2 separate regions of the Homo sapiens genome follow, and region 2 is linked to region 1. Evidence: fine-mapped expression QTL. Tissue or cell type: monocytes. Region 1 holds a variant in brackets; the other region holds the start of a gene. All regions are shown on one strand. Distances are from middle to middle.

Evidence for each region. PIP is the estimated chance that this variant, and not a neighbour inherited with it, causes the effect.
Region 2: FAM124A starts here. The variant in region 1 is fine-mapped to the expression of FAM124A in monocytes (Quach 2016, PIP 0.95).

Annotation. Positions count from the first base shown.
Region 1 is chr13:51,168,103-51,178,568 of GRCh38, forward strand. It overlaps a transcript of C13orf42 not described here. Among named protein-coding and RNA genes, the nearest start is that of FAM124A, 49 kb to the right of the region's middle. RefSeq lists enhancers at 203-1,122, 1,123-2,042, 2,043-2,962, 5,723-6,642, 6,643-7,561. The variant T/C (reference allele first, on the strand shown) is at 5,275.
Region 2 is chr13:51,217,058-51,227,523 of GRCh38, forward strand. FAM124A (family with sequence similarity 124 member A) reads left to right here and starts at 5,341. Exons shown (of 4, transcript NM_001242312.2): 1 at 5,341-5,512. The coding sequence starts at 5,445. RefSeq lists an enhancer at 4,489-5,279 and silencers at 5,060-5,109, 5,230-5,289.

The sequences.
Region 1 (10,466 bases):
GGACACTTCATTGTTGACCACCTACTATGTACCAGATGCTCCAACAGACACCTTATAAGCATTACTCCCCATTTATGGTCTCTTTTTCACAGACAAGAAAATGTGCCAAAGGAAAGCCCAGTTTGCAAGAAGCAAAGCCAAGATTTAAACCTAGTTTAGACTGTCAGTTGCATAAATCGGAGGTGCAGTTTCTCACTGTCTGGTAAAGTCTTATGTGCCAGAGATTGCTAGCTATCTCCTAGTAACTGTTGTCCCTTCTCTCTCAATTTCAGCTGAACAAATAGTTTCTCCAAATAAAGGCTATATTTCCCAGCCTCCTTTGCAACATGGCGTTGTCATGCAGCAAAGTTCTGACAAGTGGGAAGTAGTTGGAAGTGGTGAGCTTCTTCTAAGTTGCCCCATTAAAAGGAAAGGGCTTTCTTCCCCTGCCCACTGGCATCTTAGGCAAAAATGATGAGTTATTTCGGACTATGTAGATAAAGGCAACTCCCTACAGAGAGGAAGCAATAATGCAGAATGGGTCCCCATCACCAATGACATGAAGCCATCCTACCAATCCTGGGCTGCTTACATACCAACTAATATGGTTTGAATGTCTGTCCCCACCCAAATCCCACATCAAATGGTAATCCCCAATGTTGGAGGAGGGGTCAGGTGGGAGGTGATTGGATCATGGGGGCAGACTTTCCCCTTGCTGTTCTCATATTAGTGAGTGAGTTCTCATGAGATCTAGTTGTTGAAAAGTGTGTGGCACCTCCCTGCTCTCTCTCTCTTCCTCCTTCTCTCGCCATCTAAGATAAGCCTCTTTCCTCTTTGCCTTCCGCCATAATTGTAAGTTTCCTGAGGCCTCACCAGCCATGTTTCCTGTACAGCCTGTGGAACTGTGAGCCAATTAAACCTCTTTGCTTTATAAATAACCCAGTTTCGGGTGGTTCTTTGTAGCAAAGCGAGAACAGACTAATATAGAAAATTGGTACTTAGGAGTGGGGCATTGCTATGAGATATCTGCAAATGTGGAAACAACATTGGAACTTGGTTTAACAAGCAGAGATTAGAACAGTTTAGAGGGCTCAGAAGAAGACAGGAAGATGAGGGAAAGTTTGGAACTTCCTAGAGACTTGTTAAATTGTTGTGCCCAAAATACTGACAGTGCTATGGACAACGAAATCCAGGCTGAAGAGGTCTCAGATGGAGATGAGGAATTTATTGAGAACCAGAGCCAAAGTCACTTTTGTTATGCAGGAGCAAACAGATGATCTGAAACTGGAAGCAGAGTGTAAAAGTTTGGAAAATTTGTAGCCCAGCTATGTGGTAGAAAAGAAAAACCCATTTTCTGTGGAGGAATTCAAGCCAGCTGCAGAAATTTGCATATGTAAAGAGGAGCCAAATGTTGATAGCCAACATAATAGGGAAAATGCCTCAAAGGCATTTCAGAGGTCTTTGCAGCAGCCCCTCCCATCCCAGGCCTGGAGGCCCACAAGGAAAGAATAGTTTTGTGGGCCAGGACCAAGGTCCGGCCACTCTGTGCAGCCTGGGGACATGGTGCCCTGAATCCTGGCTGCCCCAGCTCCAGCCATGGCTAAAAGGGGCCAAGGTATAGCTCAGGCAGAGGGTGCCAGCCATAAGCCTTGGCAGCTTCCATGTGGTGTTAAGCCTGCAAGTACACAGAGTGTGAGAGTTGAAGCTTGGAAGCCTCTGCCTAGATTTCAGAGGATGTGTGGAAATCCTTGAATGTCCAGGAAGATTGCTGCAGGGGTGGAGTCTGTCAGGCCTCTGAGCCCAAGCCAAGCCATCGCATCCCCTGTGACTTGCATGTATACGCCCAGATGGCCTGAAGTAACTGAAGAATCACAAAAGAAGTGAATATGCCTTGCCCCACCTTAACTGATGACATTCCACCACAAAAGAAGTGTAAATGGCCGGTCCTTGCCTTAACTGATGACACTACCTTGTGAAAGTCCTTTTCCTGGCTCATCCTGGCTCAAAAAGCACCCCCACTGAGCACCTTGCGATCCCCACTCCTACCCGCCAGAGAACAAACCCCCTTTGACTGTAATTTTCCTTTACCTACCCAAATCCTATAAAACGGCCCCACCCTTATCTCCGTTTGCTGACTCTTTTCGGACTCAGCCTGCCTGCACCCAGGTGAAATAAACAGCCATGTTGCTCACACAAAGCCTGTTTGGTGGTCTCTTCACACGGACGCGCATGAAGTTTGGTGCCATGACTCGGATCGGGGGACCTCCCTTGGGAGATCAATCCCCTGTCCTCCTGCTCTTTGCTCCGTGAGAAACATCCACCTACGACCTCAGGTCCTCAGACCGACCGGCCCAAGAAACATCTCACCAATTTCGAATCCGGTAAGTGGCCTCTTTTTACTCTCTTCTCCAATCTCCCTCACTATCCCTCAACCTCTTTCTCCTTTCAATCTTGGCGCCACACTTCAATCTCTCCCTTCTCTTAATTTCAATTCCTTTCATTTTCTGGTAGAGACAAAAGAGACATGTTTTATCCATGAACCCAAAACTCCAGCGCCGGTCACGGGCTGGGAAGGCAGCCTTCCCCTTGGTGTTTAATCATTGCAGGGACACCTCTCTGATTATACACTCACGTTTCAAGGGTGTCAGACCACGCAGGGACGCCTGCCTTGGTCCTTCACCCTTAGCGGCAAGTCCCGCTTTCCTGGGGCAGGGGCAAGTATCCCTCAACCCCTTCTCCTTCACCCTTAGTGGCAAGTCCCGCTTTCCTGGAGCAGGGGCAAGTACCCCTCAATCCCTTCTCCTTCACCCTTAGTGGCAAGTCCCGCTTTCCTAGGGGGCAAGAAGCCCCCAGTTGCTTATTTCCACACCCCAACCTCTTATCTCTGTGCCCCAATCCCTTATTTCCGCACCCTGACCTCTTATCTCTGTGCCCCCATCCCTTATTTCCGTGCCCCAACCCCTTCTCTGCTTTTCTGGAGGGCAAGAACCCCCCAACCCTTCTCCGTGTCTCTTTTCTCTGGGCTTGCCTCCTTCACTATGGGTAAGCTTCCACCCTCCATTCCTCCTTCTCCTCCCTTAGCCTGTGTTCTCAAAAACTTAAAACCTCTTCAACTCACACCTGACCTAAAACCTAAATGACTTATTTTCTTCTGCAATGCCGTTTGACCCCAATACAAACTCGACAGTAGTTCCAAATAGCCAGAAAATGGCACTTTGAATTTTTCCATCCTGCAAAATCTAAATAATTCTTGTCGTAAAATAGGCAAACGGTCTGAGGTGCCTGACGTCCAGGCATTCTTTTACACATCAGTCCCTTCCTAGTCTCTGTGACCAGTGCAACTCGTCCCAAATCTTCCTTCTTTCCCTCCCGCCTGTCCCCTCAGTACCAACCCCAAGCGTCGCTGAGTCTTTCTAATCTTCCTTTTCTACAGACCCATCTGACCTCTCCCTTCCTCCCCAGGCTGCTCCTGGCCAGGCCGAGCTAGGTCCCAATTCTTCCTCAGCCTCTGCTCCTCCACCCTATAATCTTTTTATCACCTCCCCTCCTCACACCTGGTCGGGCTTACAGTTTCGTTCGGTGACTAGCCCTCCCCCACCTGCCCAGCAATTTACTCTTAAAAAGGTGGCTGGAGCTAAAGGCATAGTCAAGGTTAATGCTCCTTTTTCTTTACCCCAAATCAGATAGCGTTTAGGCTCTTTTTCATCAAATATAAAAATCCAGCCCAGTTCATGGCTTGTTTGGCAGCAACCCTGAGACGCTTTACAGCCCTAGACCCTAAAAGGTCAAAAGGCCGTCTTATGCTCAATATACATTTTATTACCCAATCTGCTCCCGATATTAAATAAAACTCCAAAAATTAAATTCTGGCCCTCAAACCCCACAACAGGATTTAATTAACCTCACCTTCAAGGTGTACCATAATAGAAAAAAGTTGCAATTCCTTGCCTCCACTGTGAGACAAACCCCAGCCACGTCTCCAGCACACAAGAACTTCCAAACGCCTGAACCGCAGCGGCCAGGCGTTCCTCCAGAACCTCCTCCCACAGGAGCTTGCTACACGTGCCAGAAATCTGGCCACTGGGCCAAGGAATGCCCGCAGCCTGGGATTCCTCCTAAGCCGCGTCCCATCTGTGTGGGACCCCACTGAAAATCGGACTGTTCAACTCACCTGGCAGCCACTCCCAGAGCCCCTGGAACTCTGGCCCAAGCCTCTCTGACTGACTCCTTCCCAGATCTTCTCGGCTTAGCGGCTGAAGACTGACACTGCCGGATCACCTCGGAAGCCCCCTAGACAGTCACTGACGCCGAGCTTCAGGTAACTCTCACAGTGGAAGGTAAGCCCGTCCCCTTCTTAATCAATACGGAGGCTACTCACTCCACATTACCCTCTTTTCAAGGGCCTGTTTCCCTTGCCTCCATAACTGTTGTGGGTATTGACGGCCAGGCAAACCTCTTAAAACTCCCCAACTCTGGTGCCAACTTAGACAATACTCTTTTAAGCACTCCTTTTTAGTCATCCCCACCTGCCCAGTTCCCTTATTAGGCCGAGACACTTTAACTAAATTATCTGCTTCCCTGACTATTCCTGGACTACAGCTATATCTCATTGCCGCCCTTCTTCCCAATTCAAAGCCTCCTTTGCGTCCTCCTCTTCTATCCCCCCACCTTAACCCACAAGTATAAGATACCTCTACTCCCTCCTTGGCGACCGATCATGCACCCCTTACCATCTCATTAAAACCTAATCACCCTTACCCCACTCAACGCCAATATCCCATCCCGCAGCACGCTTTAAAAAGATTAAAGCCTGTTATCACTCGCCTGCTACAGCATGGCCTTTTAAAGCCTATAAACTCTCCTTACAATTCCCCCATTTTACCTGTCCTAAAACCAGACAAGCCTTACAAGTTAGTTCAGGATCTGCACCTTATCAACCAAATTGTTTTGCCTATCCACCCCGTGGTGCCAAACCCGTATACTCTCCTGTCCTCAATACCTGCCTCTACAACCCATTATTCTGTTCTAGATCTCAAACATGCTTTCTTTACTATTCCTTTGCACCCTTAATCCCAGCCTCTCTTTGCTTTCACTTGGACTGACCCTGACACCCATCAAGCTCAGCAAATTACCTAGGCTGTACTGCCGCAAAGCTTCTCAGACAGCCCCCATTACTTCAATCAAGCCCAAATTTCTTCCTCATCTGTTACCTATCTCGGCATAATTCTCATAAAAACACACGTGCTCTCCCTGCCAATCGCGTCCGACTGATCTCTCAAACCCAAGCACCTTCTA[T/C]AAAACAACAACTCCTTTCCTTCCTAGGCGTGGTTAGCGCGGTCAGAATTCTTACACAAGAGCCAGGACCACACCCTGTAGCCTTTCTGTCCAAACAACTTGACCTTACTGTTTTAGCCTAGCCCTCATGTCTGCGTGCAGCGGCTGCCGCTGCTTTAATACTTATAGAGGCCCTCAAAATAAGTAGAGGCCTTTCATACAGGGTCTGAGAAGGCCACCGCAGTCATTTCTTCCCTTCTGTCAGACATAATTCCTCAGTCTAGCCTTCCCACCTCAATACAGTCTGATAACAGACGAGCCTTTATTAGTCAAATCAGCCAAGCAGTTTTTCAGGCTCTTAGTATTCAGTGAAACCTTTATATCCCTTATAGTCCTCCATCTTCAAGAAAACACACCTCACCAAGCTCAGCCACCAACTTAAAAAGGACTGGACAATACTTTTACCACTTTCCCTTCTCAGAATTCAGGCCTGTCCTCAGAATGCTACAGGGTACAGCCCATTTAAGGTCCTGTATAGATGCTCCTTTTTATTAGGCCCCAGTCTCATTCCAGACACCAGACCAACTTAGACTGTGCCTCAAAAAAAAAAAATCCCAAAAAAAAAAACTTGTCATCCCTACTATTTTCTGTCTAGTCATACTGCTATTCACCGTTCTCAACTACTCATACATGCCCTGCTCTTGTTTACACTGCCAGTTTACACTGTTTTTCCAAGCCATCACAGCTGATATCTCCTGGTGCTATCCCCAAACTGCCACTCTTAACTCTTGAAGTACATAAATAATCTTTGCTGGCAGGACTATGCTGAATCTCCTTAGGCACTCTCTAATCAGACATCCTGAGTTGTCCCAATTCTTAGGCCTTTTATACCTGTTTTTCTCCTTCTGTTATTTCATTTAGTTTTTCAATTCATACAAAACCGTATCCAGGCCATCACCAATCATTCTATATGACAAATGTTTCTTCTAACATCCCCACAATATCACGCCTTACCACAAGACCTCCCTTCAGCTTAATCTCTCCCACTCTAGGTTCCCACGCCGCCCCTAATCCCGCTCGAAGCAGCCCTGAGAAACATCGCCCATTCTCTCTCCATACCACCCCCCAAAAAATTTTCACCGCCCCAACACTTCAACACTATTTTGTTTTATTTTTCTTATTAATATAAGAAGGCAGGAATGTCAGGCCTCTGAGCCCAAGCCAAGCCATCGCATCCCCTGTGATTTGCACGTATATGCCCAGATGGCCTGAAGTAACTGAAGAATCACAAAAGAAGTGAATATGCCTTGCCCCACCTTAACTGATGACATTCCACCACAAAAGAAGTGTAAATGGCCGGTCCTTGCCTTAACTGATGACATTACCTTGTGAAAGTCCTTTTCCTGGCTCATCCTGGCTCAGAAAGCACCCCCACTGAACACCTTGCGACCCCCACTCCTGCCCGCCAGAGAACAAACCCCCTTTGACTGTAATTTTCCTTTACCTACCCAAATCCTATAAAACGGCCCCACCCTTATCTCCCTTCGCTGACTCTCTTTTCGGACTCAGCCCGCCTGCACCCAGGTGAAATAAACAGCCATGTTGCTCACACAAAGCCTGTTTGGTGGTCTCTTCACACGGACACGCATGAAAGAGTCCTCATGGAGAAACTCTACTAGGGCAAAGTGGAGGGGAAATGCAGGCTTGGAGTCCCCCACACAGAATCCCCACTGGGGCACCGCCTAGTGGAGCTGTGAGAAGAGGGTCACTGTCTTCCGGACCCCAGAATTGTAGATCCACTGACAGCTTGCACTGTGCTTCTGGAAAAGCCACCGGCACTCAATGCCAGCCAGCCGGTGAAAGCAGTCGAGGGGACTGTATCCCGCAGAACCACAAGGGTGGAGCTTCCCAAGGCCTTGAGAGCCCAGCCCTTGCATCAGTGTAGCCTGGACGTGAGACATGGAGTCAAAAGAGATTATTTTGGAGCTTTAAGATTCAATGGCTGCCCTGCTGGGTTTTGAACTTGCACGTGGCCTGTAGCCTCTTTGTTTTGCCTGATTTCTCTCTTTTGGAATGGGAGTGTTTAGCCAATGCCTGTGCCCCTATTGTATCTTGGAAGTAACTAACTTGTTTTTTTATTTTATAGACTCATGGGCAGAAGGGACTTGCCTTGTCTCAGATGAGACTTTGGACTGTGGACTTTTGAGTTAACACTGAAATGAGTTAAAATTTAGGGGACTGTTGAGAAGAGATTATTGTATTTTGTAGTGTGAGAAGGACATGATATTTGGGAGGGGTTGGGGTGGAATTATATGGTTTAAATTTGGGTCCTCATTACCAATGCCATGAAGCCATCCTACAAATCCTGGGCTGCTTACACACCAATTAATATGGTTTCAATTTGTGTCCCTGACCAAATCTCATGTTGAACTGTAATCCCCAATGTTGGGGTAGGGGTCTGGTGGAAGGTTATTGGATCATGGGGGCAGACATTCCCCTTGCTGTTCTCATGATGGTGAATGAGTTCTCATGAGATGTGGTTGTTTAAAAGTATGTAACACCTCTCCTCCTCTCTCTGTTTCTCCTGCTCTAGCCATGTAAAACGTGCCTCCTCCCTCTTTGCCTTCTGCCATGATTGTAAGTTTCCTGAGGCCTCCCAACCATGCTTCCTGTACAGCCTGTGGAACTGTAAGCTGATTAAACCTCTTTTCTTTATAAATTACCCAGTTTCAGGTAGTTGTTTATAGCAATGTGAGAACAAACTAATATACCAACTATGACATGAAAGAGAAAGAAATCTCTATCTTGTTTAATCAACTATCATTTCAGATCTCTGCCACCATGACCAAGGCTATAGCTTAACTAAAATCTCTTTTTTCAGAAGGTTATATTTTCTCCCCATATCCCTCTTTAGGATCAAGTATTCTCTCAAAGGAATTTAGGTAAACACAAGAATAACACATTTTGGTGGGAAACCCTTATTGGTTACAGAACACCTTCAAAAGCTAATAATTTTGCATTCAAAGAAATATATGAAATTAAGAAATTTTGAAAATAAAAAACCTTAGCAACATCCAAGGGCCTGTTAGGGTAGATATTATCGTTTCTAAGATGCAGTGATGAAGTAATGTGTATTAGAGAAGCACATGCTGCATTCATTTAATTTTTAACCTTTTGGGTGAATGTCCCTTTTTTTAGGAACGTCCTGAAAATATGGATGTGAACATAGTGGCTTTGAAATCAAAGAGAATCAAGGCCAGGTGCCAGCTCAGCCCCTTAGTAGCACAAGCAAAGTCTTTAATTTTTCTAAGCATTAACAACTATTCAGCGAACGGTAACTCAGACCTCATGCAATAGGAAAAGTAAAAGCAATGATATACAAATTCACAAACAAATAAATATAAAAGAGCAATAAGCATATGGGAAAAAGTCAGCTCAATAGATACCAGAGGAGTAAAAATGTGGAAGAATTATATAACTCGAAGAATTGTCCCAGAAAATTTGGAACCATATTAGAGTACCTTACGTATAGTAGAAGCTTGGCAAGTGTCCATGGTTGGTCCAACCAGCTCTGAATTTTGTTTGCATTTCACAGCAACTAATTCTTTTAATTTCAGGGAAAGTGGCTGTGTCTGCAGCTTTATGTCTGTCTTACAGAAAAACTGGTTCAATATAACTTGAAGACTAGAGGGGGAAGTTATAATAATAGACAGTTGTGTTTGGTTTACATTTAGATGCTGGTGAGCAGATATACCCTTGAACACAGAAAAGGTCACAAAACATGAAGTCAGGAGCCACTAGTTTTAGTCTGAGTTCTACCATCTACTGGCTCCATCAAATTTTGGTCAGCCTCAGTTTTCCCATATGAATCTATGGCATTACATGTTTGTTTGTTTGCTTGTTTTTAATTAATGGCCAGATACTTCAATTAGTACAAACATAGATACCAAGCAATGAAATAAACCCCGAAGAAGTGAAATGACAATGTGTAGCAAACAACCAACTACAACTCAATGAGCAGGAGGAAGTGACCTGTCCTCCAGGATGCAGACAGTGCAAAGGAATGAACTACAAAACCCCCACACCTTCCACATTCCCAACTGTCCTGAATAGCCAAATCCATGTGCCATTATTTCAGACTGCAGCTCCCACCAAACACACACACATAAACACTCACATACCTTTTCTATAGATCTCTAACCCATCTTTGTCCCCTACACTAGATTTCAAAGATTGACATTTCCAATCCAGTGTCTACCTCTATACATGCTGTAGTCACATGTCTGCTGCATTCTCCAAACTCTCTGGAACTAAACTGAATGTCTCAAGCCTCCATGACCTGGGCCTGTAATCCCATTGTTTGTTCTACTTGGTGGAGAGGTCTCAGAGTCTTTTTCCCAACTCAGATGCCCCTGCTACAAGGTAATACCTAAAAAGCCCATTGAAAAAATAAAAATAGCTGGGTGCAGTGGCTCACGCCTGTAATCCCAGCACTTTGGGAGGCCGAGGTGGAAGGATCACTTGAGGTCGGGAGTTCAAGACCAGCCTGACTAACATGGAGAAACCCCATCTCTACTAAAAATACAAGATTTTTACAAGATACAAAAGATTTTTACAAAAATACAAAAAGATTGTGCCAAACCCATCTATCTGAGTCCTTTCCCACTGCAAAATTAGCCAGGTGTGGTGGCGCATGCCTGTAATCCCAGCTACTTGGGAGGCTGAGGCAGGCGAATTGTTTGAACCCAGGAGGCGGAGGTTGCAATGAGCCGAGATCAGGCCATTACACTCCAGCCTGGGCAACAAGAGCGAAACTCCATCTCAAAAGAAAAATAAGAAAAAAGAAAAAGAAAAATGAAAAGCTTATTGAATCAAAGTCTCCCAGCCTCACAATGACACCCATCACTAGGCCACATCTCTCTTCTGCTCTTATCCTGAACTTTGACCAGAGTCTGCCCCTTTGCGCTCAGGAAATTCTAGAACTCCCACAAATGACACTCACTTGGCTTATTAACTTCCAAGTGACAAGCTGAGTAACAGTAGTCTCCAGTCCCTTGCTTGTCCCCTTGCTGAACAGCAAGTAATGAAAGGGCAGCCACAAAGTTCAGAGTTCTTTCAGTGCTTATTGAAAAAGAGGCAATATGTTTAGGAAAATGTCCCCCTCTCACAAAGTTGCCTCTGCTCTCAGGGGTCTATTTTACCCTATCTTTGTC
Region 2 (10,466 bases), 49 kb after region 1:
CTGGAATTACAGGTGTCTGCCACCACACCCGGCTAATTTTTGTATTTTTAGTAGAGATGGCATTTCACCATTGCACAGCTTTCTGAACTGAATTGCATATGCCACTGTCATAGCATTAGTTACATTGTATTGAGGTTTGAGATTTATTTGCTTGGATCTCCCACTAATGATTGGCAGGGTCCAAGGGCAGGATTTCTGTCTTATTTGGACCAGATCCAACAGGATAGTTGGGTTAGTATAATTTGGAAGAGTGAGTGCATGAATGCATGACATTCCTGTGGACAGGGACAAGAGCACTGGGACAGTCAGATGCAGAACCAGAAAGAGGTCATGAAGAAAGATTCAGATATGGAAGCTGACCACAGAGTAAAATGATAATACCCAATACTTCCTATGTGCCAGGCACTATCTCAGTACTCTCTGCGTGATAACATCTCAGTCCTCATAAAGACCTCAGTATGCCTGCGATGCAAACAACTGAGTCCCGGAGAGGTTAAGTAACTTGCCCCAGTTCACAAGCCTAGCAGGTGATAGAGGGAGAGGGAAGACTTGGGCTTGTGCACTGTGGCTGGAGAGAAACTCAGTCTTACCCATGATAAGATCCTGCCTCCCACATGATATGGCTTCAAAGGCAGTGTTATGAGTCGAATTGTGTCCGCCAAAATTAATGTGGTAATATCCTAATCCCCAGTACCTCAGAATGCGACTGTATTTTGAGACAGGGTCTTTAAAGAAGTGATTCAGGGCTGGGCGTGGTGGCTCATGCCTGTAATCCCAGCACTTTGGGAGACCAAGGTGGGCAGATCACAAGGTCAAGAGATCGTGACCATCCTGGCCAACATGGTGAAACCCCGTCTCTACTAAAAATACAAAAATTATCTGTGTGTGGTGGTGCACACCTGTAGTCCCGGCTACTCGGGAGCCTGAGGCAGAAGAATCGCTTGAACCCGGAAGGTGGAGGTTGCAGTGAGCCAAGATTGTGCCACTGCACTCCAGCCTGGCGACAGAGCGAGACTCCATCTCAAAAAAAAAAAGAAAGAAAGAGAGAGAGAGAGAGAGACAGAAGAAAGAAAGAAAGAAAGAAAGAAAGAAAGAAAGAAAGAAAGAAAGAAAGAAAGAAAGAAAGTGATTCAGTTACAAAGAGGCCATTAGAGTTGGTCTTCATCTAATCTGACTGTTTAATTTACAAGAAAAGGAAATATGGACACACAAAGAGACCCAAGGATGCACACAGATAGAAGAAAGATACAGCAAGAAGGCAGCCGTCTGCAAGCCAAGGAGAGGCCTCCAAAGAAACCTATCCTGCTGACACCATGATCTTCTACCTCCAGCCTCCAGAACTGTGACGAAATCAACTTCTATTGTTGAAGCCATGCTGTCTGTGGTACTTTGTAATGGCAGGCCAAGCTGACTATCAGGCCGTTGGAGCTGGGGAGGACCAGGTGCCTGAAGGAAAGTGTCAGGATGAAAGTGGACGGAAGGCCAAAGCTTTCCAAGCCTAGGTTATTCGTAGAACCATAAATGGGTGACTTAGCCACAGTTCCCAGGAGGCGTGTCTATTCACGGGGGACTGGAGGGCAGTGCCCTGAGTCTAAGGTTCCCTTTGATTCTTAAATTTCCACAGCACATTTCCGGAAGCCAGCCTTTCACATTCCCATCTCATTTTACGCCCACCCACCCACCAGTTGTTGGGGGTCACAGTGGGTGGGTGGTCTGATGTCTGACTTGGACTCCAGATCTCGTCCGGGTATAAACTGCAGGCTGAGAATTCTTGGGAAGCCTCCAAGGCAGGACCACTATCTGTGCTCTTCCTTATCAAAGTGGAGTCATTTATATTTTAATGAGATTATTTCCCAACACAACAGTTTATCTTTCATTTCATTTATCCCTTTGCCATCTGGTCCCCTTATGTTTGCATGTAGGGCTAGTGGCTTTCTTTGTCTAAGTAGATTTGTCAATAGTTTATAAATTTTCTTCTCATGATCATAATATTTATTTTTCACATTAGACAGACTCTTCTGGAGTCTTGGAAGAAAGAGATTTCTTTTTTTTTAATTTTAATGTCATTCTTTAACCTGTAATTTTTGTTTCTGGGAAATGTGTTTTCAAAAAGTAATTAATTAATTAAAATGAATGAGCAAAAGTTTCCAGACCAATATATTTTCTGGTTCTATTTGCTACTGGATAACCCTAACAAATATTTTACTTAAGGGACTAAATCAAGCTCGCCTAATAGCAAATGGTACAGATGCAATGAAAGTGGCCTAGCTTCCCTCTAAACTGAAATCCAAATCTGGGCAAATTCTATGTTCTGGAGATATTTATTTTTATCTGTTTTCAGTCTCTTGCTGTAAAGTTCTTATCTTAAAGCTACTTAGCTCCTCTTTTTTTGGCCCCCTCCCAATTACTCTTGGCCTTCTTAATTACTAATCCATCTCTTTCATCAGCAAAGTTGATGGACTCTATTTACCATCCGATTATCTTAAGTTTTTTCCTCCAAGACAGGGCTTTGGCATTCCAGTCCTATTCTAATGGCTGATGGCACTACATACCTCTCAGGTGCCTGGTGGGAAGGCCAGCCATGCCCATTGGCCTTGCCTTCTCTTGACCCAAAAAGCTCCATTAGGCCAGAAAATAGCTCTGGCCTATTCCTCAACATATCCCCAGCACCAGCCCCTGCCTAGTACACACTGAGTGTTCAATAAATAAATGAATGAACTGCCTTGTTTTCTAACACACCAACACATGCAATAATATAAACAGAGACTGAAACATGCTTTATAGGTGAAATACAACAAAAGATTGATGTTCAGACCTTTCTGAGAAAAAGTGATTAAAAAATCAGCAATATCTTTTATTCATATGCTTCGTAGTTTCTAAGGGGCTTTGAATCTCCTGTGAGATTTATATCAACAACCCCATTTTAAGGACAAAGGAAGCCTCACAAGAATTTTGTGAGATTTAAATAAATCATGTATGTAAAATCCTTACCACAAAGACTGACATGTAGTAAGAACTTTGGAAACAGTTGATGGTCTATCCTTTTTCTCTATCGAGAGTTTAAAGAACTAGTACATGATGGATTCCGATCCAGAAGTCAGGTTTCATGTTTCCTAGCCTGTTACACTTCCTGCCATACCTCAGTATTCCCCCAACACTGTTCTCAGGCTCTGATAGGAATATCTTTAGGGCAGCAGTCAAGACACCCTAAGCAGACCAGTGACACTTTTCTGTCCCCATCTTAAAGGGGTGGAGGAGAGCATCGTACCCCCATGATTAAAGAGACTGACATTAAACAGCTGGACTATGGAGTGTGGGAACCATGTAAGTTTAGGGGCTAGATACCCTGCAGTGATCACTTGAAGGTTCTTGTGCTGGTTACCTGCCAGCAACTCTTATACCCCGCCCTCCCAAAAAATGGGCCAGGTGCAATGCCTCATGCCTATAGTCCCAGCACTTTGAGAGGCCGAGGCAGGAGGATCACTTGAGGCCAGGAGTTCGAGACCAGCCTAGGCAACATATTTTTCTCTACAAAAAAATTAAAACTCAGCTGGGCATGGTGGCACGCCTGTAGTCCCAGCTACTCAGGAGGCTGGGAGGATCACTTGAATCAGGGAGGTGGAGGCTGTAGTGAGCTGTGATTGTGCCACTGTACTCTAGCCTGGGCAACAGAGTAAGACCCTGTCTCAAACAAACAAGCAAAAAATGAAGTGAGGCTTTTAAAACCTGGGAACTGAAGCAGAAAGCCATGCATCACTAGAATACAGTGATACCGTTCAAGCTTCTCTTCCATATAATAAATGCATCACTGAGTTGCCATTAGACTGCTATGCCAATGATGAATGATAACACTGTGTCCCCTGTGGGCGAGGGGAACCTGAATCCATGCATCATTTTGAGATGTGGCTTGAGGTTTTGGTCTGGCATGCCCTTTCTCTGGATATTTGAGAAAGGCAGAAATCATTTAAATAGCATCTCATTTTCCAAAGCCCATCTTCTAAAAGTCATGCTGATTTCACCCTTTCTTCCCTGGCCTTTTCCTTAGTACCATCTTCCTGAGGATACAACTGGCCCACTCATCAGCCTTCTAGGTAAGTGGCACAGGCTCCAGCTACCTTAAGTGGACTACCTGGCTTCCCTGCTCACTGATAGGGTGTCCTGGGACCAGGCACTCGAACTCGGTAGGGTTTAGTTTCCTTGACGGTAAAATAGAAAAGTAAGCCTGTTTCACAGCACTTCCCTGAGGATCAAATGAGGCACAGTTTGAATTGTTCCCACACAGAGTAAATAAAGGCAGGTTCCCTCCTGGCTGCAAGATAAAAAATGGGCAGGGGAATCTCCCTTGAAGAACTGGCACGCTCCTTTCTTTCAGCTAATGCCCACCAATATGTCCATTGCTGTTTGGGGTGCAAGAAATTTTAGGCTCAGTAAGGACAATTCCTCCCAATGGTTTGGATAGGGCTGTCAGAACTAAATTCAAGTTGTTCGAAGTCTCCTTCCGCCCGCCCTGCCAACTTGCCTCCCTCTTCACCCTCCTAATAGGAGGTGAGCCCCTCCAATAGCGATCATTAACTCACCCTAAGGTTATCCCCTTGCTGCAACAACCCGTGAATTGCAGGTTCATTCAATGCTCTTTAAATTATTTTTAAAGGCTTTTTTTTTTTTAAGTAGCAAAAGAATGCATGACACCTATTGTAAACTGGCAAGTTGAGGGGGTGGGATGCCGCTCAGACGTGTACTGAGAAAGGTGATAATGAATTTGGCGTCAGCAATTCTTCAGAAACTATAAGAAAACACCCAGGTGTTCGAATTGGTCCCAAAAGGGAAACAAATCCTTCCCAGCTTTCACGATGCGCTGAGGTTGGTTTTCTCAGTGCTCCTCCCAGATCAGGAGGTGGGGAACCTCGTGGCAAGCCCTGGGGCTCGGGATTCCCGGACTGTGGGCCTGGGGGAGAGAGGCGGCTCTCGTGTGCACACTTACCCCGCCCCCACAACACACACGCGGTCACGCACCACAGACGGGCACACGCGCTCAGCACAGCCACAGTCGCGTGCAACCAGGAGTGCACACCGCACCCACATCACACCGCATGCACAGACGCACGGGTGTGAGACCACACACCTCGGCCACTCACGCTCACACGCCCCCCACGCGCTCGCACACGCGCTCGCACGCGCACTCCCCGCGCACCGCCGCGCGCACACGCGGGTCCCGCCGGACGGCGAGGGGCGGGGCGGGCGCGGGCGCAGGCGCGGGTGCCCAGCCGGGCGCGGTCGGGAGAGGGCGCGGCGCGGGGTTCGCGGCTGGCGCTTGAGTTGTTTGCCGGCTCCCGGGCCGCCAGACGCTCGGAGGGAGCCCGGCCGGCTCGGACTGGGCGGCCGGGAGGGAGGGCGCCCCGGGTCACGACGGCGCCCGCAAGCCGAGCGCGGCCGGGACGTGCACCATGGACCCAAAGGCGGGCGGCGGCGGCGAGGAGGACGACTGCGTGGACTCGGGCGCCGAGACCGGAGGGTGAGCCGCGCCGGGCCGGGCCGCGGGCGGGGGGCGCTCTCCGAGTTGCGCGGCGGCTCCTCCCCGGACGGGGACCCTCCTGATCCGTGCGACGGGACCGGGGCGCGGGGCTTCTCCTCCTGCCGGATCCCCCGCTCTCTCCTGGGCGGGCCGCGCTGCCCTGGGCAGGGCGGGCACCACCCGGGGGGAGGAAAGTGGAAGGACTCAAGGTTCAGTGCAAGCCCACCCATCCTGTGAGGCGATGCAGAGCGCCAGGCGGATGCAAAGACCCCTTGTCTGCATCGCTAGAGACAGGAGATGCTCTTGCACTTGTTTCCTCCTTCCTCGGGGACTTTCCTCCTGTAGCTCCGGAGCCCCCTGGAGTCCGGCCCTGGAGATCGGGAGAGGAAGAAAAGCAGGGTGGGACACCCGCACCTAAAAGTCTTTCCGAAGTCGGCTAGGAGGATGGCATTTCTCGTTATATGGCTTCATCGTGGGACTTTAATCTGTGCTGCCGAGTCCCCCTCCCCGACTCCTCCAGTCCCGCCGAACTTCCTCACCTCTAAGTGCACCTGTCCCAGCTGGACCCTTTGGCCTGTTGTACCGGCGGGATGGAGATGGTGTTGGGATTAGGATCTAGCCCTGCCTTTTTTTTTTTTTAATATTCTCTTCGCTTCAGCGGACTCAAACAATGGGCTCAAACCTTTGGAGACTAATTAGTTAGTCTCCAAACACTGTTTTCCTGAGCGGAAGAAAAGACAAAATGCCTTTTAGGAGATGAATGTCGTTATAAAGGCTTCCAGGCAGCCTCTGTCTCTAAAGGACTTTCCTGTGCAGAGTCAGCACCACATCCAGGCCGCGGGTACTGACCCAGGAGGAAAGGGTGTTTTTTCCTATCTGGAGTAATCCTGGGGGAGGGCGGGAGCTGCCTAGACTACAGAAAGCCTCATTCCTGGAAGGTCGGAGAGGTTTTAGACTAATCTCAGGATTTGGCAACCCTGTGAGGGCAGGTAGAGAATCCAGGCCCACGATCGACCCAGAGTTCTAACCCAACCCCGGCAAAGCTCCCCACAGGGCCCCTCCTGCCCCACCACTCCTAGCCCAAATGCGGGACTTTACTCCCTAGGGCATTCACCCAGCAATGGGCTTTCTCTGTTATCCAAACTTATTCATAGCTCTCTACAGCACCCAATTATAATCTGGTGGAGTAACCTGATGCTAAATGCCAAACTTCCTTTCTTCTTCCCACTCTTTGTGTAAGTGGCATTTATCAACTTTAACAAGATTATTGGCTTTTTTTTTCTGCCATTAGTTAGCTGGACCATGAATAGAAGAAACAAAGCAAAATTAACCAGCTTATTTGTAACTGCGTTAAATAAAGCATTCACTAGTCTATTCATTTTCAATTTGCAGAACTCACCTAAAACTGATATTTTTTTCAAGGGCTCTGTCTTAGAGAAGGGAGAGGAAGTCCTGGACCCAGGGGGTGACATCGCCCCAGGATCTGGACATCAGCATGACAGCGGCCAGGCCTCCTGGGAGGGGCTCCCCACTCCTGCTGACACCAGAGCTTCTGTTCTCAGCCTCTGTCACTAAAATGTGTAGTTGTAACAGGACAGAATTGTTTAAAGAATTCTTGGCCAGGTGCGGTAGCTCGCGCCTATAATCCCAGCACTTTGGGTGGCCGAGGTGGGCGGATCACCTGAGGTCGGGAGTTTGAGACCAGCCTGGCCAACATGGAGAAACCTCATCCCTACTAAAAAATATACAGAATTAGCCAGGTGTGGTGGCGCATGCCTGTAATCCCAGCTACTCGGGAGGCTGAGGCAGGAGAATCGCTTGAACCCGGGAGGCGGAGGTTGCCATGAGCTGAGATCACGCCATTGCACTCCAGCATGGGCAACAAGAGCAAAACTCCATCTCCAAAAAAAAAGGAATTCTTACTGTATCACTAGTATCCTTAAGCTAAAGGTAAAATAGCATGCATTTCAATGTATGCTAATTAGTTTTGTGTTTGCCATATATTCACAGAGCCCTTGAATTTCAGTTATCAAAAAGCTGTTCATCGTTTCCCTGCTTTTCCAGAGCTTGCCCCCACCCCTTACCCTATCCAGCTTTCACAGAGATTATGTAGAAAGCACATAGAAGACAACAAGTGTTTGCTATCGTTAGTATTTTTAAAATGCAAATCTGATCATGTCTCTCCCTTTCAAACTTTTATGGCTCTGTTATCTACAAATGCAAGGAATTTAACGTGGCCTATATGCCCTGACTCCTGTTATGGAGTCCCTTCTTCCCTCCCTGGCCTTGTTTCTCAGCAGGTCCTTCTTTGCGCCTTGTATTTTTCTGTTTCCTCGCCTTTGTCAAGCTGCCCTCTTTGCCAGCTCTGCCCTTCCCACCTGACTTGCCTGTCTGCCAGGTGAAACTCTACTCTTCTTTCAGGACTCAGCTCAAGTGACACATCTGCTAAGGCAGTGATCCTTAATTTGGGGTCCATGAATTCCTTCAAGTTGTATGCAAAATGATGTGCTTTGTGAATTTGTATGAGAAGAGAACTTTTTTTTTTTATCAGATTCTCAAAGTAGCTGGTGATCTATTCCAAACCAAGTTTGGGCAAGATATGAGACATTTCATTTTCAACACACTGTGTCTGAGGTGTTGCAAGACATCCAAGTAAAGATGATGAATCAGCAGTTGGGTATATCTGTCTGGAACTCAGAAGGGAGGTCTTCATGATGACATTGCATTTGGGTACTATTTACCTAAAAATGGCAATGGAAGCTCTGGGAGAGACTAAATCAACTGAAGGTAATAGCAAGCACTTTCTTAGCATTTAGTATGTGCCACCTACTGTTCTAAGCCTTTATGTATTTCATGGACTCCTCGAATCCTTCAACAACTCTGTGCAGCAGGTGCTTTTTAAGACCAGCCTTGAGAAACTATATTTAAACGCCCAGTCAATGAGAATGAGCTGATAAAGGAGCCTGAGAAAGAGTAGACTTGGAGTCAAAGAAAGAAGAATATGAATCATTGAAGCCAAGGGAGGTTTGAGTTTTTGAGAAAGGAAGGAGAGATCAACTATGCTACTGAGAAACTAATGAAGATGAGGAACGCTAAATGTCTTTTTTAAATGGAGATGATGAAGTGAAGGAAGAGTGGTATTTCACAGCGGGGTGGTGGAGGCAGGAGCCAGATTAGAGTGGCTCTAGAAGGCAGTAGAAGGTGAAGAAAAGGAGACAGGTGGATTCCTTTGTCTGGAAAAAGGAGAGGCAAAAAGAGGCAGTAGCTAAAGGGGAGAGTGGAGTGAAGAAAGATTTCTTAAATATAGGTGCTAATTGAGCAATCAGTGTGATAGAAAGGATTCTATAGAAGGGGGAAGGAGAAGGAGGAGAAAAGATGATAATCTGTAATGTTGCTTGCTTGCTTTCTTTTTTTTTTTTTTTTTTTTTTTTTTTTTTTTTTTAACAGACAGGTCTCTCTGTCACCCAGGCTGGAGTGCATTGGTGGAATCATGGCTCACTGCAACCTCAAATTCCAAGGCTCAAGTAATCCTCCCACCTCAGCCTCCTAAGTAGCTGGGATTACAGGCCCGCACCACCGACACCATGCCCAGCTAATTTTTTTATTTTTATAAACACAAGGTCCTGCTATGTTGCTCAGAAACTGTCTTAAACTCCTGGCCTCAAGCAGTCCTTCCACCTTGGCCTCCCAAAGCACTAGGATTATAGTTGTGAGCCACTGCTTCTGGCCCTATAGTGTCAGCATTCTGAAAAAGTGGAGGCAGATGGACTTCATACCACAGGGGGATGGATGGCTTTAGGTAGGAGGCAGGACATCCCCTCCTGCAATTAGAAGGGCAGGCAAGATGGGGTTTCTCTTTGGTGTAAATACAGCCCTCCATCATCTGAGGAGAATGGAGATTTGAATAGTTGTTTGGGGCAATGTTGAGTGGGTGCCCAGTTGAAATTTGCAATTACGTATTTAAATAAATAACAAGGGGTACGAGTTCCCGTTGTTATTTATTTTCTCGCAGCAATGCTCAACTACCTAGGGTCAGGCAGAGAGAGAGAGTGGGTAGTTAGGATCATCAGAATTTGGGGTAAGGGGGTGTGAACAAAACACAGAAACAAGGGCTGTCAGGGTATTGCTTAAGCTGATTATCCTTTCAGTGGCATGATGGAAGAAACAGTTCCGAGAAACTTTGTGGGTCCCACTGCCAGTGGCCATGTTGGCCACTTTGAAAGTTACAGTCACAAGAGCCAGCCTGCTTGCATTCATATTCTGGCTCCTCCACTTAGGGACTGTGAAACCTTGATCCAGTGACTTAACCTCTCTCTGCTCTCAGTTTCCTCCTCTGTACAAGAGGGATGACGATAGTAGTACCTACCTTCTAGGGTTGGTGTGAGGATTAAATGAGCATATATATTTAAAGCCCCTAGAACAGTGGCTGTTCAGTGTCTAGAACCCTTAGTACATGATTATTTCTCACCATACTATATTATTATTGTTATGAGGAACACTCCAAATTATAAACTTAGAGTTTTATTTAATAAAAATGGTGAACTCAAGACCATATGTTTTTCAAACTCATCACAATAGATCCTCTGTTGCTTTTAAATACCTTAAGTAATTTGATCATTCAGAGCATCTGAGAGACTACAGGGCATGCCTCACTATTCTAATAATTATATTTTACAGATGAGGAAATGGAGACTCAGAGGGCACATGGCTCGTTAGAGGCATGAATTGAAGCCTGGATCTCCAGTATGCTTCCCACCTAGTGAAGTTGCCTCTCCAGGAGCTGTCTGATCTGTAATTAATTCTTGTTTTCTGCTCAGACATTTTCTTTTGCTTGAAATGCTGCTGCTGCTGTCTCACCCACCTAATACAGGCCAAGACTAAAAGCAAACTAGTATTCTTCTGTAGCAATTGATATCATTTTGAAACTCCCATTTTCCAAATCCACTTGAAAGAT